Regions from separate parts of the Homo sapiens genome. Here regions 1, 2 and 4 are each reported to be linked to region 3. The links are microRNA targets in miRTarBase. Many come from high-throughput screens and were not tested one by one. Region 3 holds a microRNA gene; each other region holds the end of a gene's coding sequence.
Evidence for each region. Region 3 holds the annotated microRNA hsa-miR-5001-5p (AGGGCUGGACUCAGCGGCGGAGCU, at 3,769-3,792, opposite strand). A microRNA usually pairs through its seed, bases 2 to 8, with sites in the 3' UTR of a target mRNA and lowers its output. Matches are read on the target gene's strand: a 7mer-m8 pairs with bases 2 to 8, a 7mer-A1 pairs with bases 2 to 7 and ends in A, and an 8mer does both.

Region 1 (7,158 bases), not on the chromosome of region 3:
CTTGTAATCCCAGCTACTCAGGAGGCTGAGGCAGGAGAATCGCTTGAACCCAGGGAGCGGAGGTTGCAGTGAACTGAGATCACGCCATCGCACTCCAGCCTGAAGGGTTGGGTGCAGTGGCTCATGCCTGCAATCCCAGTAGTTTAGGAGGTCAAGGTGGAAGGATCGCTTGATTCCAGGAGTTCAAGACCAGCTTGGGAAACATAGGGAAACCTCATCTCTGAACAAAATTAGCCAGGCATGGTAGTATGTGCCTGTGGCCCCAGCTACTCTGGAGGATAAGGTGGGAGGATCTCTTGAGCCCAGGAATGCAGAGACTGTAGTGAGCTGAGATTGTGCCACTGCACTCCAGCCTGGGTGACACAGTGAGACTCCATCTTAAAAAAAAAAAAAAAAAAAAGAAAAGAAAAGAAAAGAAAATGTTCAAAGGAAGTTCTCTAAATAGGCTTTGAAGTTCAGAAAGGAAAGAAGAATATCGGACTGATTAAAAATAGGGGTAAAAATACAAGATTGTCCTTCTTACGCATTTTAACAATCATCTTTGATGCCTGACACCAAAAATCATGGCATCTGATGTGGTGCCCAATATAGGCAGAGGAAAGACTTAATGATAATTTAAAAGTGGAGAGAGAAAGAGACCTAAGTAAAGGTAACGCTCTTGCATTTCACTCAAAATGTTGAGCTGTTGATAGCCTCAGACCGTGGTGCCTTATGCAGGCAGTCATGTATGTACACAACCATGCAATGCTAACAATGGGGTACGTCCTCAGAAATGCATCGCTGGGTGATTTCACCATTGTGCGAACATTATAGAGTGTGCTCGCACAACCCTAGATGGTGTCGCCTGCTGCACACCTGGGCTATGTGGTACAGCTGATTGCTCCTAGGCTATACACCTGCACAGCACGGTACTGCTCTGAACACTGCAGGCAAAGGTTGCACAATGGTAAGTATTTGTGTATCTAAACATATCTAAAAACATAGAAAAGGCATAGTAAAAATATGGAGTTTTAATGTTATGGGACCACCATTGTATATGTGGTCCACCGTTAACTGAAACATCATTATGGGGCGCATGGCTGTATTGTAAAACTCAGTGTCTGTCTGTCTGTCTCTCTTTCTTTGCCTCTAGTGGCAAAAGGTACACCTTCTCTCCTCGCTCCCCTAATTGAGGTTCCTTTTTGGTCACCTTGACAGTGGGGGAGGGAGTATGAGACTAAGGCAGGCAGGATGCTGTCTCATGTCCTCCATAACTGAATGGACAATTTCTGCATCTGGGTGGCCCTGCCCCACCCACTCCCTCTCCTCTTTGGTCTTGTAGAACATTTTTGGCTGTCATTTCCCAATCCAAAGAGGGAAGGTCGCCCAGTGGATAGTGAACTGTAGGAACCTGGGGGAATACCTGTGCCGTGGGTTTTCCTCTGGGGAAATGTCTCTCCCCTTCTTAGTCCTAGCATCCCACGAGGGCTGATTTTTCCCCGGGCTACAGAAGGGGACACAGCCCAGCTGGTCAGAGCCTCCTGTGCCCAGTTGGGACGAACAAGGGACACAGGAAGGATCCCTGAGACCCAGTCTGGGGCTCTTGCTGGAGTTGTTGGTAAGAGAAGAGAATTGTCCATCATCTCGGCTGAGGCTGCTGGGGCCATCTTGTCACTACAAAGGGAAAAGATGCTTGAAAATGGACAGACAGACAGATGATGCCTGGTGTGGTGCCGGTTCCCAGGTCCCGCATGCCTAAAGCCCGGCACCTCCTGGCCTTCTCAGTAAAGGTGAGCCAATAAGTTCCCTTGTTTTTCCTACCTCAAGTCAGTTTGAGTTGTGTTTTCTGTCACCTGCGACCACAAGAGTCCTAATGCCGGGGTGGCGGGTTCCAGCCCCCTCCTTGGTTAAGAGGCCTTTCCCAGCCCCTGGGCACTTTGCCAGAATCCCCAGGAGTCAACAGGCCTTGAGGCGACGAAAAGGTTCTCGCTTTACAGATGGAGAAACAGGCCCGAAGAAAGAGTGGGATTCACTCAAGGCCTCCCTGTCCCTGGGATCTTTTGAATTCCATTTTGGAGTCTCACCAGCAGAGAGTCTTGTTCAACGGAAACAGTTTTTTGCTCCAGTCTTCTCTCATTTTTAACTCCATGTCCGTGGTGTGGGCCTAAAGCTCGGCTTGCCAGACAAAACACAGGACACCCGATTTGATTTGAATTTGAAATCAGCAATGAATAACTTTTTAGTATACATATGTTCCAAATATTGCATGGGACACATTCCTACTGAAGAAATGCATTGCTCACCTGAAATTCAAATGTAGCTCAGATGCTGTATTTTTATGTATTTGGCAACGCTATCTAAAGCAGGGAGAGGGGATGCAGGAAGAGGGCAAGGCTACCTCTTTATGAGGAGTAGGGGAAGAGTCGGGGTAGGGTGGATGCTAAGATGCAGCCTCAGAAAAATAATCTTCCCCATCTCCTGCCAGAATGCCCGCATCACCCACGGTCTGTCATCAGGGTTTTGCAGCTGCCAGGTCAGTAAAAATGTGGCCTGGAGAGCAAACATATTAACCATCAACAGTCTAGTGTGAATTAGTTTACGTACATTCACTTGTTATCCTCAGCTGTGCAGAAGGGAGAAGACTCCAGAGAGGGAGGTGCTGATAAGCCTCTTTCTTCATTTTCTCCCTGAAGTGCTGGTCTTCAGAGCACAAAGGATGGAATTTGAACTGGTTCCCTGCACACTAGAACCACAGGGGAGATTTTTTTTTTTTTTTGAGAAGGAGTCTTGCTCTGCCGCCCCGGCTGGAGGGCAGTGGTGCAATCTCGGCTCACTGCAAGCTCTGCCTCCCGGGTTCATGCCATTCTCCTGCCTCAGCCTCCCAAGTAGCTGGGACCACAGGCGCCTGCCACCATGCCTGGCTAATTTTTTGTATTTTTAGTAGAGATGGGGTTTCACTGTGTTAGCCAGGATGTTCTCAATCTCCTGACCTCATGATTCACCCACCTCGGCCTCCCAAAGTGCTGGGATTATAGGTGTGAGCCACCGCACCCGGCCCACAGGGGAGCTTTTAAAAAATCCCAGTGTCCAGACCACACCCATTCCCATTAAATCACAATCTCAGCTGGGCACGGTGGCTCATACCTATAATCTCAGCACTTTGGGAGGTTAAGGCAGGAGGACCTCTGGAGCCCAAGAGATCGAGACCAGCCTGTGCAACATAGCAAGACCCCATTGCTACAAATTAAAAAAAAAAAAATGAGCTGGGCATGGGTCTGTGGTCCCAGCTACTTGAGAGGCTGAGGCAGCAGGATCCCTTGAGCCCAGGAGGTCAAGACTGCAGTGATCAGTGATTGTGCACTGTACTCCAGCCTGGATGACAGAGTGAGACTGTCTAAAAAAAAAGAAAAAGAAAGAAAGAAAGAAAGAAAGAAAGAAAGAAAGAAAGAAAGAAAGAAAGAAAGAAAGAAAGAAAGACAAAAAACTCAGAATCTCCATGAGTGGTTTCCAGCTATCATCTTTTTTTCAATGTGCAGCCAAATTTGAGATCCAGTGGACATAATAGCTCAGGACACATGGTTCTATCCTTGGTGAGGTTTGCTGTGGATAGGCAGCCGGCTCTGTGCCAGGAATCCCGCAGACATCATTTCACTGGATTTCTGTATAGCCCTACCATGCAGACCCTGTTAACCTCATGTCCGCAGAAGGATGCAGGCTCAGAGGGGTGATGTGACTTACTCAAGGTCACACAGCAATCAAAGGGCCCTGCCCACAGCCCCTGAGCTGCCTCCAGGCTGTGTGGCTCCAGGAGAGTGCCTTTCCTGTCTGGCGCCTGCCACGGGTAGAGAAGGCTGTGTCCACAAGCATCATCCAGCCCTGCCTGTCAGCTCTCTAATCAGCATGGTTACATGACAAGGACACCAAAGAGTGAGAGGGGCATCTTGATTGGCAGATGGAGACAGGGAACGCCCCAAGGGTTAACTCTAGATGTCCTGGGCATGTCATCAGTGAGAATGACAAGTGGAGGTCCCTTTTACTGGAGAGCAGGGAGGCTTCACCTGAAATAGCCTTCGTAGACTTGAACAACGACATTACCCCCCTCGCTGCCAACGTAAGCACCTGGGAACTACTGCCCTGAGTGACCCAACCCTCCTCCCCGACTCCCTCCACCATCCCTAATCCCTGGCAAATGCTCATTTGGAATCATGTTTCATGCACACGTTGGTGTCCGGTTGCACCTGCTCCTCCTTGCACTCAGGATGTGGCCCACATCTGGTCACCCTGACCGCTAATTCTTGCCTTCCCAGCCTGCCGTGCAGCTGGGGCTGGCCTGGTCCTGTGACGCAAACCTGGTTCTTAGGATGTAGCCGGAATTTGCTGAAAGGTTCTAAGGAAGTTTTGGCTTTCTTGATGAGAGAGGCCCAGCCCGAAATGATTCCCTCTCCCTGAGTACAGGGCGCTCAGCTGAAGCCACAGCAGCCCTGGCGAGACGAGGCCCCAGCAGGACAGGGACACCAAGGGAATCACACAGGGCACAGCCCAGGCATCGCTGGGTCACTGGGTCCCTCTGGATTTGTGGCTGGACAAAAAGAAATCCTATTTGCTCCGGTCAGTGGTCCTCCGTTAAGGGTGATCTTGCCTCCTAAGAACATGCAACAACTTCTGGAGGTATTTTGGTTGTCACAACTTGAGGGTTTCTACAGGCATCTAATGGTGGGGGGTGGGGGGGGCACTGTTAAATGCAGGAACGTCTTTCCCCAGGGAAGAGTGCTGAGGGCGAGAGGCCCTCACTTAGGCCGCTGTTCCTTGGTGTTTGTTTCCTGCAGCCAAAAACACTCCTGGCAGAGAGGCCGCCCTAACCACTGAGACTGCTAGAGAGAAGGTGGACTGAGGAAGCCAAGCCCCTAGGCATGAGGAAAGGGCAGGACAGCAGGGCCCAAACCAGCCTCCACCACTAGAGCTGGCTGGCCCAAACCCGCTAACTTCCCACCCGAGCTTTTGGTGTCCAGGGCAGACACACCGAGGGTTTCCTCCCGTGGACGGTGCTGCCCCCCACCAGCCCCTTCCCCACCCTCCCTAACATTCTAGGCGGATAATAGAATGCACCTTTTGATACAAACAAACTCCATTTTAATATACAAAACAAACCTCACTTACATACATAAATATAATTTGGGGGCATAAATAATGTAAGAAAATAAGAGATGTACATATCAAAATAAATTACTCATAAATATCATGTTGGAAAACCAAGTGCTGGGGAAAGGGTTCTAGGTCTTCCCCCGCTGCTTCCACACAGCAAGTTATTGACAAGACTTGGGGTCTTCAAATCTTTTCTTTTCCTGATTTTTGAACAAGAAGTGCAGGTTGACATAAGGTGGGGGGCCTGGGAGGCCCCAATCCATGGGGAGGCATGTGAGGTGGGCAGAGGGCTGGTGGGCTGGGAGATGGAAGCAGGTGACACCGGGACAGCAAGTTATTCTCAGGACAGCATCCATGACAGAACTGGCCTCAGGGGGAATTCTCAAGTTGTCCCAGGGCTGGAGTGGGGCTCCAGGCTTCCCCTACTCCTGAAGCCTGGTGGGCCATGCCTGCTCCAGTCAGTTCTGGCCTGGAGGGATTTGGGAAGGGCAAATGGTCCCTGGAAGTAGAGATATAGATCAATTCCCACATGGGGTTGAGTGAAATTTACCTGCTGTTTTACAGAGTGGATCACCTGTTCCTGAAATTAAAACTACTGCCTGTCTTCTGGCTGCTCCTGGGGAAGTGATGAGAAAAAATTAGAGAATTTCAGCTTGACATAAGAATTTTTCCAAAGGAAGTGAGTTCCCCATCGATGGAGGTATTCAAGCAGAACTGAGACAGTGCAGCAGCTTGTCCAGCAACCTCGAGGGAGCAGAATGGGGGCCCAGGCAGCAGCTGGGCAAGCTACAGGCTTACAATGTTATGATCAGACAAGTCTATTGGCTAGAAACTGGCACTGCCAATGGAAAACTCTGAATATGTACAACTTCTAGATGTTTCTTCCTAAAGCTAAACAGAACGTGGACTCAGGACTGTTCTTGTAGAAGCACGTCCCCCACGCTGCAGGTACCACAGCCCCTGGCAGCAGTGAAGAGGCCCGGGCATGGTCTCAGTTACTTCTCAAAGCTGGGACTCCTCACGGCCTCCAGTCCGGTGACAAGCCCAAATGGGTCCATGCTGTCGGTCTCCAGGGGCGAAGAGAACATGTCAGATTCCAAGTGGCCCCTGAGGTCCTCAGGCTCCTCTGGGACCATGGGCAGCATGGGCAGGAAATGAGAGAGTGGAAGAAAGCCTCTGTTCTTGTACAGCTGCCGCTGTTTGGCACTGCTCAGGGAGACCGGGAGGCGGTGCTTCTCGGATCGGTACACATTGTAGCCATCTGGGCGGATCTCCTCCTCGAAAGCACAGTCTTCCTCCGAGTACTGAAGCTGCAGAGAAAACAGGCAGCTCTGAGCAATCCACAGTGGACAGGGAACACGGGTCCACATGGACGTTTGTGCTACAGACTGTCCCTGGTGGCCACCAGCAGTGACCTTCCACATAAGCATCACTTGCATGTTTTATACATACTTCCTGATGTACACACTGTACGTGTAAGTATATATAAAATATACCTTTATATATGTAAGTATATATAATATATAATGTACTTTAAGGCCAGGCACAGTAGGTCACACCTGTAGTCCCAGCACTTTGGGAGGCCCAGAGCAGATGGATCACCTGAATCCAGGAGTTTGAGACCAGCCTGGGCAACATGGTAAAATTCCATCTTGACAAAAAGTACAAACATTAGCAGGTCATGGAGGTGGGCGCCTGTAGGCCCAGCTATTCGGGAGGCTGAGAGGTGGGAGGATGGGTTGAGGCTGGGTAGTCAAGGCTGCACTGAGCAATGATCATGCCACTGCACTCTAGTCTGGGTGATAGAGCAAGACCCTGTCTCAAAAAAAAACAAAACAAAAAACCCACAACTATATATATACACAGAGAACACACACACATATATAAATGTACTGTAAGTGTAAGCATATATAATATGTACATTATGTTAATATATAACCCATTAATAAATTAAATATACATTTATATACCTTTATAAATTATAATCTTTATATAGATATACATGCACACAGACAAAACTGAGGTTTATTATTTCAT
Region 2 (7,127 bases), not on the chromosome of region 3:
TGAGAATCACTTGAACCTGAGAGGCAGAGGTTGCACTGAGCCGAGATCCCGCCACTGCACTCCAGCCTAAGTGACACAGCGAGACTGTCTCAAAAATCAATCAATAAATAAAAATAAATAAAAACATCCGAAAGGATAACCAATTAACTCAGGTTGCTTGTGGAATGAAACTGAGGGCGCAGTATGAAGGGGATTTTCCTTTTTTCTGTTTTTTATTAAATTATTTTTAATTTTTAGAGACAAGGTCTTGCTTTGTTGCCCAGGCTGAAATGTAGTCGGATGCTAATAGCTCACTACAGCCTCAAATTCCTGGGTTCATGCAATCATCCCACCTCAGCTTCCCAAGTATGTAGGTCTACAGGCTCATACTACCATGCCCAGCTAATTTTTTACTTATTTTTTGAGACAGGGTCTCACTCTGTCACCCAGGCTGACTGCAGTGACATGATCATTGCTCACTGCAGGCTCCAATCACTCGGGCTTAAGCCATCCTCCCACCTCAGCCTCTCAAGTAGTTGGGACTACAGGTGTGTACCAACATGCCTGGGTAATTTTTGATTTTTTTTTTTAAACAGAGTCTTGCTCTGTTGCCCAGGCTGGAGTGCAGTGGTGTGATCTCAGCTCACTGCAATCTCCGCCTCCTGGGTTCAAGCGATTCTCTCCCAAGTAGCTGGGATTATAGGCATGCGCCACCACGCCCAGCTAATTTTTGTATTTGTAGTAGAGATGGGGTTTCACCATGTTGGCCAGGCTGATCTCAAACTCCTGACCTTAAGTCATCTGCCCGCCTTGGCCTCTCAAAGTGCTTGGGATTACAGGTATGAGCCACAGCCCTGGCCTAATTTTCTATTTTTTTGTAGAGACATGGTCTCACTATGTAGCTCAGGCTGGTCTCAAACTCCTGGGTGCAAGTGATCTTCCTCCCTTGGCTCCCCAAAGTGCTGGGATTACAGGTGTGAGCCATCATGCCCAGCCCCTTTTTTTCCTTGTATAACATTCCATTTCTTTTCCTTTTCTTTTTTTTTTTTTTTGAGATGGAGTCTCGCTCTGTTGCCAGGCTGGAGTGCAGTGGCATGATCTCGGCTCACCGTAACCTCCGCCTTCCGGGTTCAAGTGATTCTCCTGCCTCAGCCTCCCAAGTAGCTGGGACTACAGGCGTACGTAAGCACACCCGGCTAATTTTTGTATTTTTAGTAGAGAAGGGATTTCACTGTGTTGGCCAGGATGGTCTTGATCTCCTGACCTCGTGACACACCTGCCTGGGCCTCCCAAAGTGCTGGGATTACAGATGTGAGCCACAGTGCCCAGCCTCTTTTCAATTTTTTTTTTTTTTTTTTTTTGAGACAGAGTCTTGCTCTGTCACCCAGGCTGCAGTGCAGTGGCGTGGTCTTGGCTCACTGTCAGCTCTGCCTCCCGAGTTCACACCATTCTCCTGCCTCAGCCTCCCAAGTAGCTCGGATTACAGGTGCCCACCACCACGCCCAGCTAACTTTTTGTATTTTTAGTAGAGACGGGGTTTCACCATATTAGCCAGGATGGTCTCGATCTCCTGACCTCGTGATCCACCTGCCTCAGCCTCCCAAAGTGCTAGGATTACAGGCGTGAGCCACCTCACCGGCCTCTTTTCAATTTCTGACACTTTATAATTGTATGTACTTATGGGGTACAATGTGATGTTTTTGCATACATGGATACATTGTATAGTGATCAAATCAGGGTATTTAGGACAGCCATCTCATTATGAATTTGTAATTTTTTTGTGGTGAGAACATTCAAAACCCTCTCTTCTATTTTGTTAATAATATACCATACTTTCTTGTTAACCATTGTCACTCTACTGTGCAATAGAACACCAGAACTTATTCCTCCTATCTAGTTTTGTACCTCCAAACAACCTCTCCTCAACCTCCTCTCCTCCACTGGCTCTGCAACCTCTGGTAACCACTGATCTGCTCTATACTTCCATAAGATCGGCTTTTTCTTTTTCTTTTTTTTAAGATTCCACGTATCAGTGAGAACATGTGGTATTTGTCTTTTTGTGTCTGACTTATTTCACTTAACATAATGTTCAGGTTCAAATAATTTGTTTCAAATGACAGGATATCATTCTTTTTCATTGCTGAATAGTATTCCACTGTGTAGATATACCACATTTTATCCATTCATCCATTGCTGGCATTTAGGTTGACTTCAATTCTTGGCTATTGTGAACAGTGCTGCAATAAACAAGGGAGTACAGATACCTCCATTTACCCACTGGTGGGATTGCTGGATCATATAGTGCTCTACTTTTAATTTTTTGAGGAACCTCCACAGTTTTCCTTAATAGAGGTACTAATTTACATTCCCACCAACAGTGTGTAAGGGTTCTATTTTCTCTACATCCTCACCAACACTTGTTTTCTTTTGTCTTTTTGATAAGAGCTATTCTAACTAGAGTGAGGTGGTATTTCATTGCAGTTTTGATTTGCATTTCCCTGATAATTAGTTATAACATTCAATTTCAATTCCTTTTTTTAAAAACCATGAACATATACTCTTTTTTTTTTTTTTGAGACAGAGTTTTGCTTTTGTTGCCCAGTCTGGAGGGCAATGGTGCAATCTTGGCTCACTGCAACCTCCGCCTCCCAAGTTCAAGTGATTCTCCTGCTTCAGCCTCCCGAATAGCTGGGATTCCAGGCATGTGCCATCACGCCTGGCTAATTTTGTATTTTTTAGTAGAGATGGGGTTTCTCCATGTTGGTCAGGCTGGTTTCGAACTCCTGACCTCAGGTGATCCACCCGCCTCGGCCTCCTAAAGTGCTGGGATTACATGCATGAGCCATTGTGCCTGGGGAACATATACTTCTATAATTTCTATTCCTTTAACAATTAAAAACCTTTTAAGGGGCCAGACACGGTGGTTCACACCTGTAATCCCAGCACTTTGGGAGGCCGAGGTGGGCAGATCACGAGGTCAGGAGATTGAGACCATTCTGGCTAAGATGGTGAAACTCCACCTCTGCTAAAAATACAAAAAATTAGCCGGGTGTGGTGGCAGGAGCCTGTAGTCCTGCCTGGGTGACAGAGAGAGACTCCGTCTCAAAAAAATAAAAAAAAAAGTTTTAAACGAGAAACAATTATTCTCTGCAGCAAACTCTAGATATATACCCTCATTCTGTAATCCTGTGTGAGTTAGTTCAAGCATATAAATAAATTACTTAAGGCCACATGAATTTGAAGTTAATACAGGTGAGCATTTCTATAGTCTCGGGAAAAAATTTTTTTTAACTTTTTTTTTTTTGAGACGGAGTCTCACTCTGTCGCCCAGGCTGGAGTGCAGTGGCGCGATCTTGGCTCACTGCAAGGCCCGCCTCCTGGGTTCAAGCAATTCTTCTGCCTCAGCCTCTGGAGTAACTGGGACTACAGGCGCGTGCCACCACGCCTGGCTAGTTTTTTGTATTTTTAGTAGAGACAGGGTTTCACTGTGTTAACCAGGATGGTATAGATCTCCTGACCTCGTGATCCACCCACCTCAGCCTCCCAAAGTGCTGGGATTACAGGCGTGAGCCACTGCACCCGGCCTTAAAACTTTTTTTGATAAAGAAAACAAAACAGGTTGGATGCAGTGGCTCACACCTGTAATCCCAGAACTTGGAGAGGCCAGGAGTTTGAGACCAGCCTGGGCAACATAGTGAGACCCCATCTCTACAAAAAAAAATTTTTTTTTTAAAGAAAACAAAGCACACTATTTGTAGAAATCTACAAAAGGGTAAAGAAGGAAAAAAAAACCCACTGGCTACCCAGAGAAAACTTGAGTTAATGTTTTTGGGACATTTCCTGCAAAAGGCAAAGTGCCCAGTGAAGTTGAACCTGAAGCCTTGTCATAATCTTTTGCTGATGCCTTGATGCCATTTTGGGGGATGGGGGAGGTGGCCTGGCAGTTTTGTCTTCCTTTGTTTGGAAAATCCAGCAGAATGGGTCTTGCACATTGCAAAGGCAAACATTCACCTATTATTCTTGGAGAAAACAGTGAATTTACCTGAATTCTGCAGGAAGATGTTGCAAACTGAGATATGAAGTGTTCTGCCTTAGTAAGGATCAAATGGTCTTTTAGCCTAACCTTTCTTTGAAGTGCAAGAAATTGATTCCCCAGGAGTGTCTTTAAACTCAACTGCATGTCCTCCTCCACAGAATCATTTTAGATAAAATACTGGGTCTGTGTGAAGGGCACACAATTATGTAGGCTGTGGGGTGGCTCATCTGGATCCAGGGTCTCTTAGCAGAATGCTGGGGGATTTAGGAAGTTTCCCACCATGGAACAGTTGGTAGGCAATGGCTGCCTCCAGGCGTCAGGTGTGACTGATGCCACCTGCCCTGCCTTGGTCAGTCAGCCCACATTGCCCTGGAAACCAAGGTGACGCCTTGTATTTGCAAACACCAGAGAATAAAGCCTAGGCAGATGGATCAGACCCTGGTGGTAAGAATGCGGATGGACCCTCTGGTCTCAGCTTGAAAGAGGTGGAGTCCTGCATCAAACCTACTATGCCAAACTCCTTCCCCAGAAGGAAATAGGAGAAATATCCTGCAGGCAAACAATTCTGTTCTAACTAGGAAATGAGGTAATCTACCAAGTTCAAGCAGAGAAGAGGGCTTGAAAAACCAAGAAATAAAAAGTGGGAAGGAGGTAGACCTCTTGAAGCCCACCTGGCAAGAAGCAGATTTACAGCTTGGTAATATTATGCTTAAGCCCATAAAAGCAGAAAAGATAGGACAGTGGGATAGGAATCTGGAAGTAGAAGACAAGAGGTAAGAAAATGGGATACTGACTTAAAAAAAAAAAAAAAAACCCAGACATCTGACTTGACACTCTCCGTCTTGTTAATTTCTTCAATGATGATATTAACTAAGAAGGGGTAGGAAGAGAATTGGGGAAGGGGTAGGAAGAGGAGAATGCTGAGAAGAAAGTCTGGCTGATGGGACCAGCTCGTCTGGATTAACTTTCTAATCTTCTATAGAGGAGGAAAACCAAGGTCTGGAGAAGAGATGCAACTCTACTCAGAGTCTGCATGTCCCCCCCAGCCTGGGACACGTGGGGCCTGAGTGCATGTCCACAGCCATCTTCCCCAGCTCCCTCTCCAAGGGGCCACCCAGCCTCGCGCCGTGCCCAAGCCCTGGCCCAGGAGAATCTCTCCGAGCCCAGATACCCTTCCGGGCCTAAGCAGGCCCTACTCTCCCAACCCTCAGTTACCTTCTGGGATGACTCCAGCCAGTTGCCCTGGTGAGGGGGCTGTGTCACAAGGGGGCCTGGGGTCCCTCAACCTGGCACCCATGCAGTGTCCCCCGACCTGGCCTGCCTGAGTCCTCCCACACAACAAGCCGACTCAGGGGCAGGGAGGGGGCCTCCACATTTTATTAGGGATACGGCAGAAGCAGAGGCAGGAAGCAGAGCAGCCGCATTTTAAACAACACATAAATTAACCGCAGTGCGGGGCTGGGGGCTGGGGGCTGGGCCAGGCGCTTCAATATATAAAAACAACAACAAAAAAGACGGACGAACAGACCCCAAAGGCATGGGGCAGAGGAGGGCAGCACCATCCAGACAGCAGGGAGGACCAGGGCAGAGAGAGAAGGCAACTTGTCCCCCTGGCCCCCAAACTCCACCAGCACGGGGGCCTCCAGGAGGGCCTCGCGAGGGCTTCGGGGCAGAGGAGCAGCCGGGTTGGGCAGAGATGGCACGGCTGGTGGGCAGGAAGCCCAGCACCACAAGATGGCTCAGCCTGAAGTAGGGACTGGAGGGCTGCGACACAGTGGCCTTTAACCCCCAGTCCCTTCCAGGAAGAGCCTTACTCTGGGTGAGAGAAGGGACCAAGGGCGGGGTCTCTCCCTGAGCTGAGCACGGTCATCTCATCCGCCGAAGCAGTGGGTGGTGGGGTGTGCCAGGGACCCCCTTTTCACCTTCTTATCCACCTGCCTCCTTGGTCCCTTCAGGGAGGGGTCCCCGTCTCCGGGGGCTGGGCATGAAGAGAGCCGGTCCAGTCTGTGGTCCCCAGCTCCAGCGGGGCCGTGGCGTGGCGCAGCCCCTCAGCCCTGACTCCCACAAGAGGACAGCGAGTCGTAGAGTGAGTCACTGAGAGACTCCGAGGTCTCCAGCCCTGGGGGGCCCCCGCTGGCCACTCTGCCTTCCTCGGCCATGTCCGAAGTGCTGGGGGTGCGGCTACCCCCGAAAGGTGGGCCCTGGGGCGTAGGGGACGGGCGGCTGGGCTCCTGGCTTCGCTTCCGGTCCACGGGCAGGGCCTGGGAAAGGAGGGGCAGCTCGGGAGGAAGCTCCTCTCCACCTTTCGGCCCAGCCTCAGAGGCACTGAGCTCTGAGGGGCGTCTGTGCACCTGATGGGGGGCTGCTCCAGAGGGGGCCCAAGGTGGGGTATACTTCAGAGGAAACAGGCTGGAGGTACAACTGAGAACAGTCCTACAAGGTTCTGGGGAGGGACAGAAACCTTTCCCCACGAGAGAAGTGCAAGGAGGGCAGTGGGGAGGGCCGCTCACAGGGCATCCCAGGGGTCCTCCTCCCAGAGGGTGCAGCACTGAGACTGTGCGACACACAGGCCGTACCTTACTGGAGAAACTGGTCTCCCCACATCACTCCCTCCTGCTCCCGAGTCCTTTCCCTTTCCTCTGCTGCAATTCTCACCATGGGGGTCCTGGGCAGCCCCTCCAGTTGTCGGGGTGGGCACATGAGAGGGTCCGAGGAGCTGCCGGCTGCCCTAGTATTGGGGAAGGTCCAGTTCTTGGCCAGCTGGACAGGAGGGGTGGGGCCTGGGTCTTCACAGGGATCTGTCCAGGAACAAAGGGAAGGTGGATGGAGCTGCCTGGGCAGCTCCAGGATGCCCAGGGGCATCCCACCCTCCCACCTGGACACTCACCATCAGGACAGGTCTCATGGCCCCGGTGGCCCGGAGCAGCGGGTAGCAGTGCAGGGAAGGCTGGCATGCTGGGGTGCCGCCCACTCACCAGCAGCTCCTCTATGCCTGGCACCTCCCGCTCCAGTGTGTGGGCGCGGCGGGGGACTTTGGTAAGGGGTGGGGGCCGAGCTGGGGGTACCCCAGGTGGGGGATCCAGCCGCGGTGGCTTGGTCTTAGGAAGATTCT
Region 3 (7,000 bases):
TTGAAGTCCAGAATTCCTGACTCTGACCCAATCTGACACTCTAAGATTCTACGGCCTGAAAAACAGGCCCTTCTTCCCAAAGGATGGTTAAGACAAGGAAGAGCTAGGCAAGAGGAGGTGTGGAGTTAACAGAGAGCCACTGAGCTCTTCATTCCAGGAGGAGACTTTGACTGGCCTCCCTTGACCCCACTAATCAGGTAGTAAGGCTGGGGTCTTCCTGGGGGAGAGGCAAGGTCCTGCTCTGAGATTACAGCCGGCACACGAGTTTGGCTGGTAACCAGGGGACACCCTTGGGCAAGTCACCTATGCTCCCTGAGGCTGTTCCCTCATCTGTAAATAAGGTGCAAAAAATAATCCATTCCTGGCCAGGTGTGGTGGCTCACACCTGCAATCCCAGCACCTTGGGAGGACAAGGTGGGTGGACTGCTTGAGCTCAGGAGCCCACGAACCCAGGAACCCAGCCTGGGCAACATGGGGACACCCGGCCTCTACCAAAAAATACAAAACTTAGCTGGGCGTGGTGATGCATGCCTGTAGTCCCAGTTACTCGGGAGGCTGAGGTGGGAGGATCGCTTGAGCCCAGGAGGTCTAGGCTGCAGTGAGCTGTGATCATGTGACTGCACTCCAGCCTGATGACACAGTAAGACCCTGTCTCAAAAAAAATAAAAAAATTACAAAACTGAAAAAAGAAAAGTGAAAGTGCCACATAAAGGCCTGACGACAGGATATGCTGGCAGGAGGGGACCTTGGAAATATGCCCTCCCTCCAAGCACAGGATTGCTGTCTTTGGGATTCAATCACCAGCAAGTTCGTATTATTTACTCCAGTGTGAGTCTGTGTCTGTGCATGCACAGTGTGTTTGAAGCAAGAGCAGAGTCAGAGCTATAGAGAACTAGAGGAGTTAGGGAGAGTGGGGGAGAACTTCAATCAGGGAGGGAATCTGATGACAGTGGGGCCATTTCCGGTTCCCACCAGCCCCTTACTAGTTGTGTATCTGGCACAAGTCTCTCAACCTCTCTGAAAGCCTCAGAGGGCAGAGGATTAGCTCCTTGTACACAATAAACACTCAAATGTTAACATTAGCTGCCATTACTATAAGTTACTGTCTCATGGGATCCATACAGCAACCTAAGGAGGTAGGTCGAGGCATACCTCAAAGACATTGCAGGTTCAGTTCCAGACCAACACAAGAAAGCAAGTCACATGAATGTTTTTGGTTTCCCAATGCATATAAAAGTTATGTTTACACTATACTGTAGACCAGCAAGAGTGCAATAGCATTGTCTAATAAAACAATATACATACCTAAATTTAAAAATACTTTATTGCTAAAAAATGCTGATTATCAATCTGAGCCTTCGGTGAGTCGTACTCTTTTTGCTGGTGGAGGGTCTTGCCTCGAGGTTGATGGTTGCTGACTGGTCAGGGTGGTGGCTGCTGAAGGTTGGGGTGGCTGTGGCAATTTCCTAAAATAAGACATCGGTGAAGCTTTTCGCATGAGTTGACTCTTCCTTTCATGAAAGATTTCTCTGTAGCATGCGATGCTGTTTGATAGCATTTTGCCCACAGTAGAGCTTCTTTCAAAATTGGAGTCAATCCTCTCAAACCCTGCTGCTGCTTTATCAACTAAGTTTATGTAATATTCTAAATCCTTTGTTGTCATTTCAACAATGTTCACAGCATCTTCACCAGGTGTAGATTCCATCTCAAGAAACCACTTTCTTTGCGCATCCATAAGAAACAACTCCTCATCTGTTAAAGTTTTATCATGAGATTGCAGCAATTCAGTTACATCTTCAGGCTCTACTTCTAATTCTAGTTCTTTTGCTATTTCCACCACATCTGCACTTACTTCCTCCACTGAAGTCTTGAACCCCTCATAGTCATCAATGAGGGTGGGAATCAACTTCTTCCAAACTCCTGTTAATGTTGACAATTTGACCTCCTCCCATGAATCACGAATGTTTTTAATGGCATCTAAAATGGTGAATCCTTTCCAGAAGGTTTTCAATTTGCTTTGCCCAGATCCATCAGAGACATCACTATCCATGGCAGCTAGAGCCTTATGAAATGTATTTCTCAAATAATAAGACTTGAAGGTCGAAATTACCCCTTGATCCATGGGCTGCAGAATGGATGTTGTGTTAGCAGGCATGAAAATAACATTAATCTCCTCGTATATCTCCATCAGAGCTCTTGGATGACTAGGGGCATTGTCAATGAGCAGTAATATTTTGAAAGGAATCTTCTTTTCTGAGCAGTAGGTCTCAACAGTGGGTTTAAAATATTCAGTAAACCACGCTGTAAACAGATGTGCTGTCATCCGGGCTTTGCTGTTCCATTTATATAGCACGGGTAGAGTAGATTTAGTATAATTCTTAAGGGCCCTAGGATTTTCAGAATGGTAAATAAGCATTGGCTTCAACTTAAAGTCACCAGCTGCATTAGCCCCTAACAAGAGAGTCAGCCTGTCCTTTGAAGCTTTGAAGCCAGGCACTGACTTCTCCTCTCTAGCTATGAAAGTTCTAGATGGCATCTTCTTCCAATAGAAGGCTGTTTCATCTACATTGAAAATCTGTTGTTTAGTGTAGCCACCTTCGTCAATGATCTTAGCTAAAGCTTCTGGATAACTTGCTGCAGCTTCTACATCAGCACTTGCTGCTTCACCTTGTGCTTTTATGTTATGGAAATGGCTTCTTTCCTTAAACCTCATGAACCAACCTCTGCTAGCTTCAAACTTTTCTTCTGCAGCTTCCACACCTCTCTCAGCTTTCATAGAGTTGAAGAGAGTTAGGGCTTTGTTCTGGATTAGGCTTTGGCTTAAGGGAATGTTGCGGCTGGTCTGATCTTCTATCCAGACCACTAAAACCTTCTCCATATCAGCAATAAGGCTGTTTCGCTTTCTTATCATTCGTGTGTTCATTGGAGTAGCACTTTTAACTTCCTTCAAGAACTTTTCCTTTGCATTTACAACTTGGCTAACTGTTTGCCGCAGGAGGCCTAGCCTTCGGCCTATCTCGGCTTTTGACATACCTTCCTCACTCAGTTTAATCATTTCTAGTTTTTGATTTAAAGTGAGAGATGTGCGACTCTTCCTTTCACTTGAGCACTTAGAGGCCATTGCAGAGTCATTAATTCGCCTAATCTCAATATTGTTGTGTCTCAGGGAATAGGGAGGCCCAAGAAGAGGGAGAGAGATGGGGAACGGTCTGTGGGTGGAGCGGTCAGAACACACACAACATTAAGTTCCACGTCTTATAAAAGACGCTGTATGTGGCACCCCAAAACAATGACAATAGCAACATCAAAGATCACTGATCATAGATCACCATAACAGACACAGAAATCATGAAAAAGTTTTAAATATTTTGAGAATTACCAAAATGTAACACAGAGACACCAAGTGAGCACATGCTGTTGGAAAAATGGCGCTGATACAATTGCTGGACTCAGGGCTGCCACAAACCCTCCATTTGTTTTCAGAATGCCCTATCTGCGAAGCGTAATAAAACGAGGTATGCCATAGTACAGTGGCGCCGCGACCGACAAAGGAAAGCCTCCGGGAGGTCAAAAGAGATACCAGAGAGTGCGTCCCGCACTGGAGGAAGAGGAAGGTTTTTACCAAGCAGCGAGTCCAGAGCCCGCGCCGTCAACGACGCGGTGCTGCCTTTTTTCCGAGCCGCTGCGGGAGGGGGCCAGGACACGCTCCCTTAGGAGAGCGGGCGGGTCACAAGGACCTGGACAGAGGCAGAACTGAGGCCAGCAGCCAGCTCCGCCGCTGAGTCCAGCCCTCTGCGCAGCCGCCCTGAGCTGGCGTCCCGAGATAGCCGCTTCCAAACCGGGCCTGCGCGCCGACGTTCCGCTGCGCCCCGCGCAAAACCGGAAGTACCCGGGCCCAAGGCTGAGGGACCCGGTGGAGCGGAAGTCACTCCCTGAGGCAGTGGCGACAGCGGCGGCGAGAGGATGAACAACAAGTTCGACGCGTGAGTGGCTCGTGGCCGCCCCCGGGGCCCCTTCCCCGAACAGTTCCCCCGCGCCCGCCCCCGCTGGGGCTGGGGCGGCGCAAACCCTGCGGCACCGGCTTCCCTGCTGGGATCCGGCTGCGGCCGGACCTGGCCTGGACTGGCGGGGAGGAGGGGGCTGGGGAGCAATGGATACCGGAGTCCCGGAGACCCCAGGGCCGTCCGAACCGAGGGCGAAGAGCTGGGCCCGGGGGAGGGGTGGCTGTGCCGCCCGGTAGGGGGAGATTTTCGGACGCCCCGCCCTGGTGGATGCGGATTGCCTGCGACGTGGAGGGGTGGGGACCTCGGCGGTTTGGGTGTTTCCGCAGTCTGGCAGCGCTGCCTCTGAATCCAGCTTTCCCCACACACTCCCTCTCCCCTCTGAGCCTCAGTTTTCTCATCTGCAGAGTGGGGACGGTAACACCCTTTGTCGTAGAGTTTGGAGGATGCAATGAGGTAATGTGGTTGCTGCCCTCGACGCGGTGGAAGGCTGGCTTAGGAATTATCTTCCTGAGACTCTTCCTACTTTCTTTCTCCTCCCCTTCCCGTTCCCGTCTTCCAACACACTCGCCAAGACCTAAGTATACTTGTTGCCCTCTCCTGCCCGCTCCGGTTTCTAGTTTCAGCATCAAACAGTTTGGAGGTACAGAGAGAAAATGCAGAAGTATCTTTACTTATCCCCCTCCAAGGATTGTATCTTGAGGTAGAATATGTTCCTTCCTCTCTTCTAGTAGTCTAGTAAATCGACTGTCTCTTCATCCGAAAACCTGGATTTCTAGTCCCAGATTCACCACTTACCATCTGTTTGACTGTAGAAAAGTTACCCAGCCTCTAAGCCATTGTTGCTCAAACCACATTAGTGGCTAGGACCCTGCTGCCACGCCGGGGTGTGATAAGGGTCAGATCACACTCAGCGATGCTTAAAGATGCTTGTGAACATTGCTAACTATTGCGATATAAACGTAAAGTGGAATTACTATTAGTTTAGGTTGTGACCTGGTGCTTTTGATGGGAAATTGGGGTGTTTCCAATACAGAGAGTACTGTGCAAATTCAGGGAATACTGGATTTCCAACACTCCAGGCAGGTAGGTCCTCAGGAATGTTTTCTGGTTGCTGAGAGGTCTCTGCTACTTGAGAAAGTCTTTGCCCGACCTCTTCTCTATCCTGCTGTTTAACTGAGCCTGTCCCTCTACGAACCTCTCCCCCGCTGCCGCCCCATTTCATCTCTATTGTAAACCCTGCAACAACTAGCTCCAGATCCAAATCCTGCCTCAGTGGAGCTTTCTGGAACCCTTATACCCCTTCCTCCACTGATTTGAACAAATCAAATGTCATCCTAAGAAGACATCTTATGGGTCATCTAGCTCAAGCCTACCCAAATCATTTGGGAGTCTGCAGTAAGAATGGTAATAATGGACTTCCACAGGGATCTTGCTAGGTATTTTTCATATATATATATATTTTTTGAGACAGGGTCTCGCTGTGTCACCCTGGCTGGAGTGCAGTGGTGTCATCACAGCTCACTGCCCACTCAACCTCCCGGGCACCAGCAATCCTCCCATCTCAGCCTCCAGAGTAGCCGGACTACAGGCATGTGCCACCCTACCTTGCTAATTTTTTTGTATTTTTTGTAGAGACGGGGTTTCGCCATGTTGCCCAGGCCGATCTCGAACTCGGGCTCAAGAGATCCACCCACCTTGCCTCCTAAAGTGCTGGGATTACAGGCATGAGCCACCACCCCCAGCCTCATATGTTATTTCTACTCTAACAATTCTGTGAAGGGGATCTTGTTGTCTCCTTTTACAGATGAGGAAAGTGAGACTCTGAGGTTAACTAATTCCCGACACAAAGGAAGGGCTATCCCAGGTTTGTTGTGTAACCTTGGTTCAAGCACCTCTTGAGAAAAATTAAACTTGCCCTCTTTTTTTTTCTTACCTCTTCTACGATTGAAGAACCTGGGTCATTTTAATTACTTTGAATTATTAACTATTGTATTGAGCCAGAATCTTTTAACATCTGCCCTCTAGCATTGCAGGAAAAAAAAAGAAAAACAAGCTTTCTTTCATTTGAAATTAGCAGTTGAAAACAGCACTCCTGCCCCTAGTTTTATTTTTTTATGTTGTTTTTCATTCAGAAATTCTGCGGTGTTTAGGCCATTGCTGCATATTTGGAGTCTTTACCACATTGCTCTCTCTAGTAATCTGCACTTTTTACCACATTGCTCTTAAGGACATGTTCCAGTTTGCCAGAATCCTTCCAGATGTCCAGTGGCTGGAGCTGAGTACAGTAGTATATAATCTAATGGGCTCATATTAAAGATTAGCTCTAATCTCCGTTACTGTATGGACTCAACTTCTCTGAATGAAACCTTTGATTGTAATTGCTTTTGTGGAGAAGGGGTAGACCTATCAAGTCCTTAGATCTCATTGCCATTGATCCTATTGATAACGTAAAACCGTAAGATGCTTTCACAAAAACTGCAGTCCTGACTTAAACATAGTTTTCAGATCTACACAACTGTACTTGATTTTGTCCGTATTCTACATCATTTGCTTTTTATTCTATATCGTTAACTTTGGGCCCATTCCTAACTATTGTCTAAACCACTTATTTGGCACTCATTGCTTTGATTCTATAGACCCATTCATTAAACGGAGATTTTTTTTTATGCCACTGTCTGATGGTGAGGGTATAAAGATGAATTGAACCAAGGTCCTGCCCACAAGGTATTGGTCTAGTTCAGAGGGTGAGGAAATACGTGGGCAGAAGCTTAGCAAGCTAACTAAAGTGCCTCTCAGTCTGGACAGTCTCAGAGTTGCTAACTGCCTGAGTTTAGGGAGCACTGATTTTTCAGTCTGAGTTGTATCTTGACTCAAATCCAGCTTGAAGCTGGGAAGAGTAGCTTGTAAGATTTGCCTTAAATGTAGGCTTAGAGGGCAGAGTGGTTGGTTAGTTCCACTCTCAGGTAATAAAAGCACCAGATATAGGTCCATTAGGG
Region 4 (7,158 bases), not on the chromosome of region 3:
ACATATCAGCATTAGATGCACTTAAAATTTATATACAAAGGTTTAGGGCTGTATTATGCAATTTCAAGTCATGTTGTATATTGGAAAGAATTCCCAAATTTGTAAACATATCCACAGACATATAGATTCATCTCTTCATATGGCCATTTACCAAATTTCTATAGAATTTATGTGAGGAATATAAAAAATGATAAATGTCAATGTGCTCTGTAAATTGCCAGGCTCTAAACATATGTTGTTATTTCACATTTACCATTATAGCAAATGCCAACCTATTTATAGGTGTGCAGTTGTCCAGCATGCCCTAGATGTATTTAGACATCACAAGTTACAAACTAAAAGAACTAAGGGGGTGGAATGTGATAAAAGCTTTGTATAATTATTAAAATAAATATAAGAGGATGCCAAAGGCCCAAGTTTATATAATGCAAGGTCCAACCATTTCATGAACTATCAGCCCTACAAATTGGACCCTACCCATGGAAACAAGCCTAAGTTTATAGACATAGAATAGGAATATTAAAATTAATCCAAAATTAATGAAATCAGGTGAGCCACTAAGAATTCTAGTCCCTATTGAAAACTCAGCCTCGACACTAAGTCTTATCCATTATTCTACAAGGAAGCGTGGATTCTCCTTATTTCTTCATCTTGACCTTCAGCCATTTTCTCAGTTTAGCACTTCTGAGGCTTTGCAGAAGGAATTCCAGAAAGTTTGTTAATACAAGTTACAGTCTTTCATTACACAATTGGAATTAAGCTTTTAAATGAAGATATCATTTAAGCTCATACTAAAAGGTACACAACTGATACTGGAGCCTTTCTGGGCAACAACAGTGTTGAGTGGAAATGGTCCACACACTGCAGGAGAGGGGATAGTTGGGAGGACTGTATACCTGAGATAACTCAGTTCCTAAGGACAGGAAGCAGGTGAAACTCGGAAGTGAGAACAGGGTGAAGAGAAGGGGCATACATACCAAAAAGAGCTAAAAGCAGGGTTTCAAAGAACTATTTGGACATCCTTGTTCATGGCACTATTATTTAAAATATCTGAAAGCTGGATTCAACCCAAGTGTCTATCAACAGATTACCAGATAAACAAAAATGTATGTGTGTGTATGCACTGTATGTGTATGTATGTGTGTATATATACATATAAACACATGTGTATGTATGTATATATGTCTACATGTACACCGTTTACACTCATACGCACAGTATTCCACTGTGTTTGTGTGTGTATTTATGTATGTGTGTGTCTGTGTGTATATATATACATATATATAGTGTGTGTGTATATATATGTATAACATATATATACAGTGTGTGTATATAACTTACCTAATTGATTAGTTTGGAGTCGGAAAAGTACCTTACATAAGGAAAATACCTCATATAAGTAAAATAAGCCAATTGGATTCCCTTAATGGGATTAAAATGATACAGAGAGAAAGGACAGAAAAGAAATTCCCATACGTTCATTGAATACAAAAGAGAAACATCTTACAACTATTAGCATTCAAAATACAAAAATGGAGAAAGTAAGAGACAAAATTCATGTTTAGATTAAGAAGCCTTCTCACTGAGATTTTTTTATGTGGTTTTATTCTAATGGCTTTCCCTCATTACCTTTGAAGCAGCTTAAACACACAGACATACACACATATACATACAAACACACGCAAACACAGTGGAACACTACTCAGTCTTAAGCAGGAGGAAAATTCTGACACATGCTAGAACATAATAAACCTTGAGCACATTATGCTAAGTGAAATAAGCCAGTCACAAAAAGACATATAATGTCTGATTTTACTTGTATGAGGTACTGAAAAAACACAATACTGTATGATTGCCCTTTATGAGGTACTTAGAGTAGTCAAATTCACAGAAGCGGAAAGTAGAAAGGCGGTTGCTGGGAGGGGAGGGAGTTACTGAGGGTATAGAATTTCAGTTTTGCATGATGAAAAGCGTTATGTGGATGGACGGTGGTGATGACTGCACAATGTGAATGTACTTAATGTCACTGAACTGTATGCTTCAAAATAGTTAAGATGGCAAATTTTATGTTTTCCCACAGTTAAAAATAAAAGATACATATTATATTTTTAACCAAATTAAAACAACTTCTACCTTTGTGAGAAAAAAAAAGAGACGGTGGGGAGCAGGCACTGTCTGCTGCATGACTTGCCTGGGTCTTGGCCTAGGCTCAGTAAAAAGGAAAATGGCAGCCAGGCGTGGTGGCTCACAACAGTAAGCCCAGCACTTTGGAAGGCTGAGGCAGGTGGATCACTGGAGGTCACGAGTTTGAGAGCAGCCTGGCCAAAACGGTGAAACTCCGTCTCTACTAAAAATACAAAAATTAGCCTGGCGTGATGGCAGGCACCTGTAATCCCAGCTACTCAGGAGGCTGAGTCAGGAGAATCGCTTGAACCCAGGAGGCGGAGGTGGCAGTGAGCTGAGGTCACGTCACTGCACTCCAGCCTGGGCAACAGAGCGATACTCCGTAAAAAAAAAAAAAAAAATTTGGTTTTTTAAAACTATTTCTGTATATTAACTTACTCATGCTAGTAATATTATGATGATTGCATTACAACTCAAAATCCACAGCAGATAATATTAAATGTGCGTTGAAATACCAGAAATGCTGCAAGCATTGTTACTCAAAGTGTGGCCTGAAGCCCAGCAGCATCGGGATTCTCAGGTGGTTCAATTGTCCATTAGTTTGAGAAGCACTGTTGTAAACTTTCGAGAACTGCAAATTCAGCTAACGATCATGCTTGATGGGTTGAGATGGAAGGATAACATGTCATTAGAGTTGTATTATTGTATTGTGAGTTAAATTGAGAAAAATGTCCACGTTTTACTATCCTTTACATTCTCGAAAACTATTAAAACTGTATCCATTTATTGCCTTCGATAGAGAAAATGCTTAAATCGAATCCCAAGTTTGATTTAATGTCAATGGCAGTGTTTTCTGAAGATTCTATATGACACGTTCATGGAAGTGAAATGATTTTCAAAAGCAAAGAGCCAAGCACAAAGCTCTTAACAAGTGGCTGACGGTAGATTTGGTAGTTTTTTTTGTTTGTTTGTTTGTTTGTTTTTTTGAGACGGAGTCTCGCTCTCTCGCCCAGGCTGGAGTGCAGAGGCGCGATCTCGGCTCCCTGCAAGCTCCGCCTCCCGGGTTCACGCCATTCTCCTGCCTCAGCCTCCCGAGTAGCTGAGACTACAGGCCCCCGCCACCGCGCCCGGCTAATTATTTGTATTTTTAGTAGAGACGGGGTTTCACCTTGTTAGCCAGGATGGTCTCGATCTCCTGACCTCGTGATCCGCTTGCCTCGGCCTCCCAAAGTGCTGGGATTACAGGCGTGAGCCACCGCGCCCGGCCTTTGGTAGTTTTAAAATTCAAAGAACTCATTACAGCAGAACTAATTCATAGTATAATAATAAGTTTGCCAGGGGAAGTAGTGACCCTCATAAATGTTCAAGAACAATAAAATTCTGGTCACTGGTAATGTGAGAAAAACCACTAATACCCACAGCCAACTGGATTCACATAATGGGATTAAAATGATACAGAGAGAGAGGACCGAAAAGAAGTCCCCATGTGTTCACTGAATACAAAAGAGAAACATCTTAACAAATATAAGTATTCAAAACACAAAAGTGGAGCAAGCAAGAGATAAAATTCATGTTTAGATGAGAAGACCTCTCACTGAGATTTTTTATGTGCTTTTATTCTAATACGTTCCCCCTCATTACCTTTGAAGCAGTTTAATTAAATGCTAAGGATACATTTAACACTTGAAACAAAAAAGTAAATTTCCAATAGAAAGACAAAAATTAGTGATTATAGACAAAGCAGAGACGACTGGGAGGGAAAACTGGAGTTAGATTCTGTCTCTGACATCAGGGCACACTTGGCTGGAAAACATTTTTCCGCTTAATGATAATCTTTAAAAGTTATTGGAATCTCTGCCTGTTTTCAAATCCTTTGCCTCTGGCAAACGTCCATTCACTCTGACTTTTGCAATAATACAAATAACTAAATTTGACTCAATAAAACCAAGTATTATTTTACAAGTACAAACTGAAAGTCAACCCAAGGTTTGGCTTGTTGTTTTTTGAAATTGATGCTAATTTTAAGCAACAATTCAGAGAATCCCAGGAGGTTTACATGAGGTCATTAGTAGCAAAATCATTTCTAAGTAATTCAAAGTGTTTTCACACTGCTGAATCACTTGGCATCTTCCACATACCCACCTCATGTTCTTGTTACCCAGAAGACAGTAGCAGAATTTGACGTAAAACCTCCCTCTGTGGCGGTATTAAAAGTGAGATACGTGACTCTTGATTTTTTGTATTAGAATGACTATGACACCTTAAACTTCACTTGGGGTCCACAGGTGAGGTCTTAAGAGATGAACTTAGTACTCTCATAAAAGTCTTACTCTTATTTTATCAATTATATGGAACAACAGCTAACATTTTACTGAGTAAAACAAGAGATTAACAAGAACTTAAAAATGGGAGAAATGGTGGGTGTGGTGGCTCATGCTTGTAATCCCAGCACTTTGGGAGGCCAAGGCACGAGGATCATTTGAGACCAGGTGTTCAAGACAAGCCTGGGAAGCATAGGGAGACCCTGTTTCTACCAAAATTTTTAAAAACTTACCTCTGCACATATTCCAAAAATAATAATAAATTTAGAAATTGGCCAAGCATGGTGGTGCATGCCTGTAGTCCAAGCTACTCAAGAGGCTGAGGTGGAGCCTGGGAGGTGGAGCCCCTTGAGTAGCTGGGACTACAGGCATGCACTTGAGCCTGGGGAGGTCGAGGCTACAGTGAGCCATGATCACACCACTGCACTCCAGCCTTGCCGACAGAGTGAGACCTTGTCTCAAAAAAAAGGGGGGGTGGGGGGAGAAAAGGTGTAAGAATTAAGAAGCCACCCTCATGCTGTGATAAACATCTGCAAGCTTCAGCAACTGTCAGCTGAAGCAATCTGAATACTAAACGTTTTTGTGTCAGAAGAGAGTTACACTGAAGGCCTTTGACAGTGGTGCAAATGTGGGAGGCATAAAGCTGATACTTGGGGACCGGATGAGAGTTGTGACTGGGCCTGCATCCAAATGCCTGCTGTCACCAGTGATTCAGAAACAGTGGACTCACACAAGAGCTGAGAGGAGGTTTGGGCCCCATCAGTACTGACCACATCTTAAAAGGAAACCTGATTTGTGGCTCCTAGCAACCTAAAATCATAGACTGTTCAAAGAAACTAGAAATGTTTCTAGAAAGGAAGCTTAGGGCCCCACATAAACATCCTCGCCAGGGAAAGAAACTGGGACCCAGGGAGTCAGAAGAAATCTATTCCAAGAACCCAAACCATCTAATGTAATGTAAAAGAGACATTACACTTGATTTCCCTTCCAATTAATTCAGCTTTGTCCAATCACGTGAAATGAAGATACTGTAAACATGCAAATGGCCCTATGTTCTCCTTAAAGTGATTTTTGCCTCAAACAGTCTCGAATAATTAAATTTATGTGCCCTCCACAATGCAAAACTAAAGTATTATAAAGGTTTTCCTGTGGCCCCCAGTGACCATTAAGAGTACTTCAAAATATACAAATATACAGAATCATAGAAAAATAGCTTCTTCATCTAGACAGAGACAGCTATTTGCTTCGGCAAATATTGGGTCTTTGAGAAGACAGTGTCAATTTTATTGCTTTTTGAAATGCTGTGTAAAGTGTGGTACTTAACAATTTGCACATTGGGCAATTTCCATCTGTAAGTTTAAATATATGTGATAAGAAAAAGTACATGCATATTAGGAATATATAAAATTTTTCAAAATCATCATCTTTACATTAGAAATTTCTTTACACAAACATCTTAACTTTTAAAAAAAGTAGCAAATGGCTATAATGCTCTAAGACTGCAGAAAATCCAGCTTTCTGTTTAAGCAGCCTTTCACTGAGAGACACGAGTGATGGCAGATGAAGGCCTCTTAAGAATAGACTCAACAGAAAATGACAGTGGTTCATTCACCGAGAGTTTTGTTCCAACTTGTTTGGCTACAAAAAGGTCTTTTGCACATCTATCTATTGTAAATGTGTACTTCTGGTTGTCCTTAACTAAACACTCTCTGTGTTTCTTAGGGGTCTCTTCAAAGGCCTCTTTGACAAATGGTGTTTTCAACTCAGGACCCGATTTGTCAGTAAGTGTTTGCTGGAATAATGAGTGGAATGGATTATGTCTAAGTGGCAGAGGGTGCCTGGTGTTTTCTTTGCTGATCTTCGTTAAGACATGCCCTTGAGCTGCCAGGGAGTCCGTGTCAACAATGGGAGAGAAATTCCGTCGGGGTGGGGAGAACGCGGACCTCTCTGGGACAGCCTGATGACCCTGAAGGTCACTTCTCGTGGTCTGGATCTCAGGAGTGTGAGGCAGCACCAGGGAACCTTCCAATTTCGATGGCATCATGTCCTGCTCTGCACTGAGTCCATCCTGGACTCGTGCTCCCTTCAAGTCCCAGCTGGCCCCAGGCTTCAGGGCTTGAACTGAGGTGGTGGCATTTAGCAGGCATTGCTGGTAGAGGAGGGTGTCGCTAATGGGGCCACACTTGGGCCAAACTAAAAATCTTGAGGACAAGGGATACTGTCTATAAGTTGTGGCCACGCTGACATTAGAAGAAATTAGTTCCATATTCCCAGACCCTGAATACTGCATGGTTAAATCAAGGCAGGTGGGCAAAAAATTACAGAAGTCCTTGCTTGGTGGTTCCACTGGGCTGGGGCTGTAGGCACTTTTGTAGGAATTGTAGTCAGGTCCAGGCACCATGCGGTTGGGCAGAAACAGAGCAGCAGCTTGAGAAGTTTCCAACATCTCCCTTTCTTTATATTCTCTCTCCAGCATAATGTTCTCCAACTCTTTATCAGCAAAGGCTCTTCTTTTCCTCATCCTGTCACTAACTGGGGGAGGTAGAGGGAAGGTCCCTCCTACATAAGTCTCCGCTGGAATGGGGCGATAGCCTACAAGAAGCAAAGATTGCACATGAAAGAGATTAACATCTACGGAATAAAAATGTGGAAACCCAGAAGGTAACAGCAACACTACAGATCAGCAGAACAATTATTTACAGTTCCATCTCAC

Region 1: miRTarBase lists FGF19 as a target of hsa-miR-5001-5p. Seed matches in the 3' UTR shown: 7mer-m8 at 5,517-5,523, 8mer at 5,416-5,423 and 7mer-m8 at 5,409-5,415.
Region 2: miRTarBase lists NCKAP5L as a target of hsa-miR-5001-5p. Seed matches in the 3' UTR shown: 7mer-m8 at 5,991-5,997, 7mer-m8 at 5,485-5,491, 7mer-m8 at 5,478-5,484 and 7mer-m8 at 5,471-5,477.
Region 4: miRTarBase lists DMRT2 as a target of hsa-miR-5001-5p. The part of its 3' UTR that is shown has no 7-base or 8-base seed match.

What each region holds. Positions count from the first base shown.
Region 1 is chr11:69,693,146-69,700,303 of GRCh38, forward strand. It overlaps FGF19 (fibroblast growth factor 19), which reads right to left. Exons shown (of 3, transcript NM_005117.3): 3 at 5,093-6,431. The coding sequence ends at 6,117. Among named protein-coding and RNA genes, the nearest start is that of FGF19, 7.3 kb to the right of the region's middle. RefSeq lists a silencer at 6,136-6,430.
Region 2 is chr12:49,785,776-49,792,902 of GRCh38, forward strand. NCKAP5L (NCK associated protein 5 like) reads right to left here. Exons shown (of 13, transcript NM_001037806.4): 11 at 6,903-7,127; 12 at 6,671-6,813; 13 at 5,377-6,276. The coding sequence ends at 6,064. Among named protein-coding and RNA genes, the nearest start is that of NCKAP5L, 39 kb to the right of the region's middle. RefSeq lists an enhancer at 4,972-5,814.
Region 3 is chr2:232,546,762-232,553,761 of GRCh38, forward strand. It overlaps MIR5001 (microRNA 5001), which reads right to left and starts at 3,812; the gene lies at 3,713-3,812. CHRNG (cholinergic receptor nicotinic gamma subunit) reads left to right here. Exons shown (of 12, transcript NM_005199.5): 12 at 1-1,354. TIGD1 (tigger transposable element derived 1) reads right to left here and starts at 3,796. Exons shown (of 1, transcript NM_145702.4): 1 at 1-3,796. The coding sequence starts at 3,121. The coding sequence ends at 1,346. EIF4E2 (eukaryotic translation initiation factor 4E family member 2) reads left to right here and starts at 3,928. Exons shown (of 7, transcript NM_004846.4): 1 at 3,928-3,983. The coding sequence starts at 3,964. RefSeq lists a silencer at 3,939-4,308.
Region 4 is chr9:1,056,095-1,063,252 of GRCh38, reverse strand. It overlaps DMRT2 (doublesex and mab-3 related transcription factor 2), which reads right to left. Exons shown (of 4, transcript NM_181872.6): 4 at 5,701-7,037. The coding sequence ends at 5,980. Among named protein-coding and RNA genes, the nearest start is that of DMRT2, 9.3 kb to the right of the region's middle.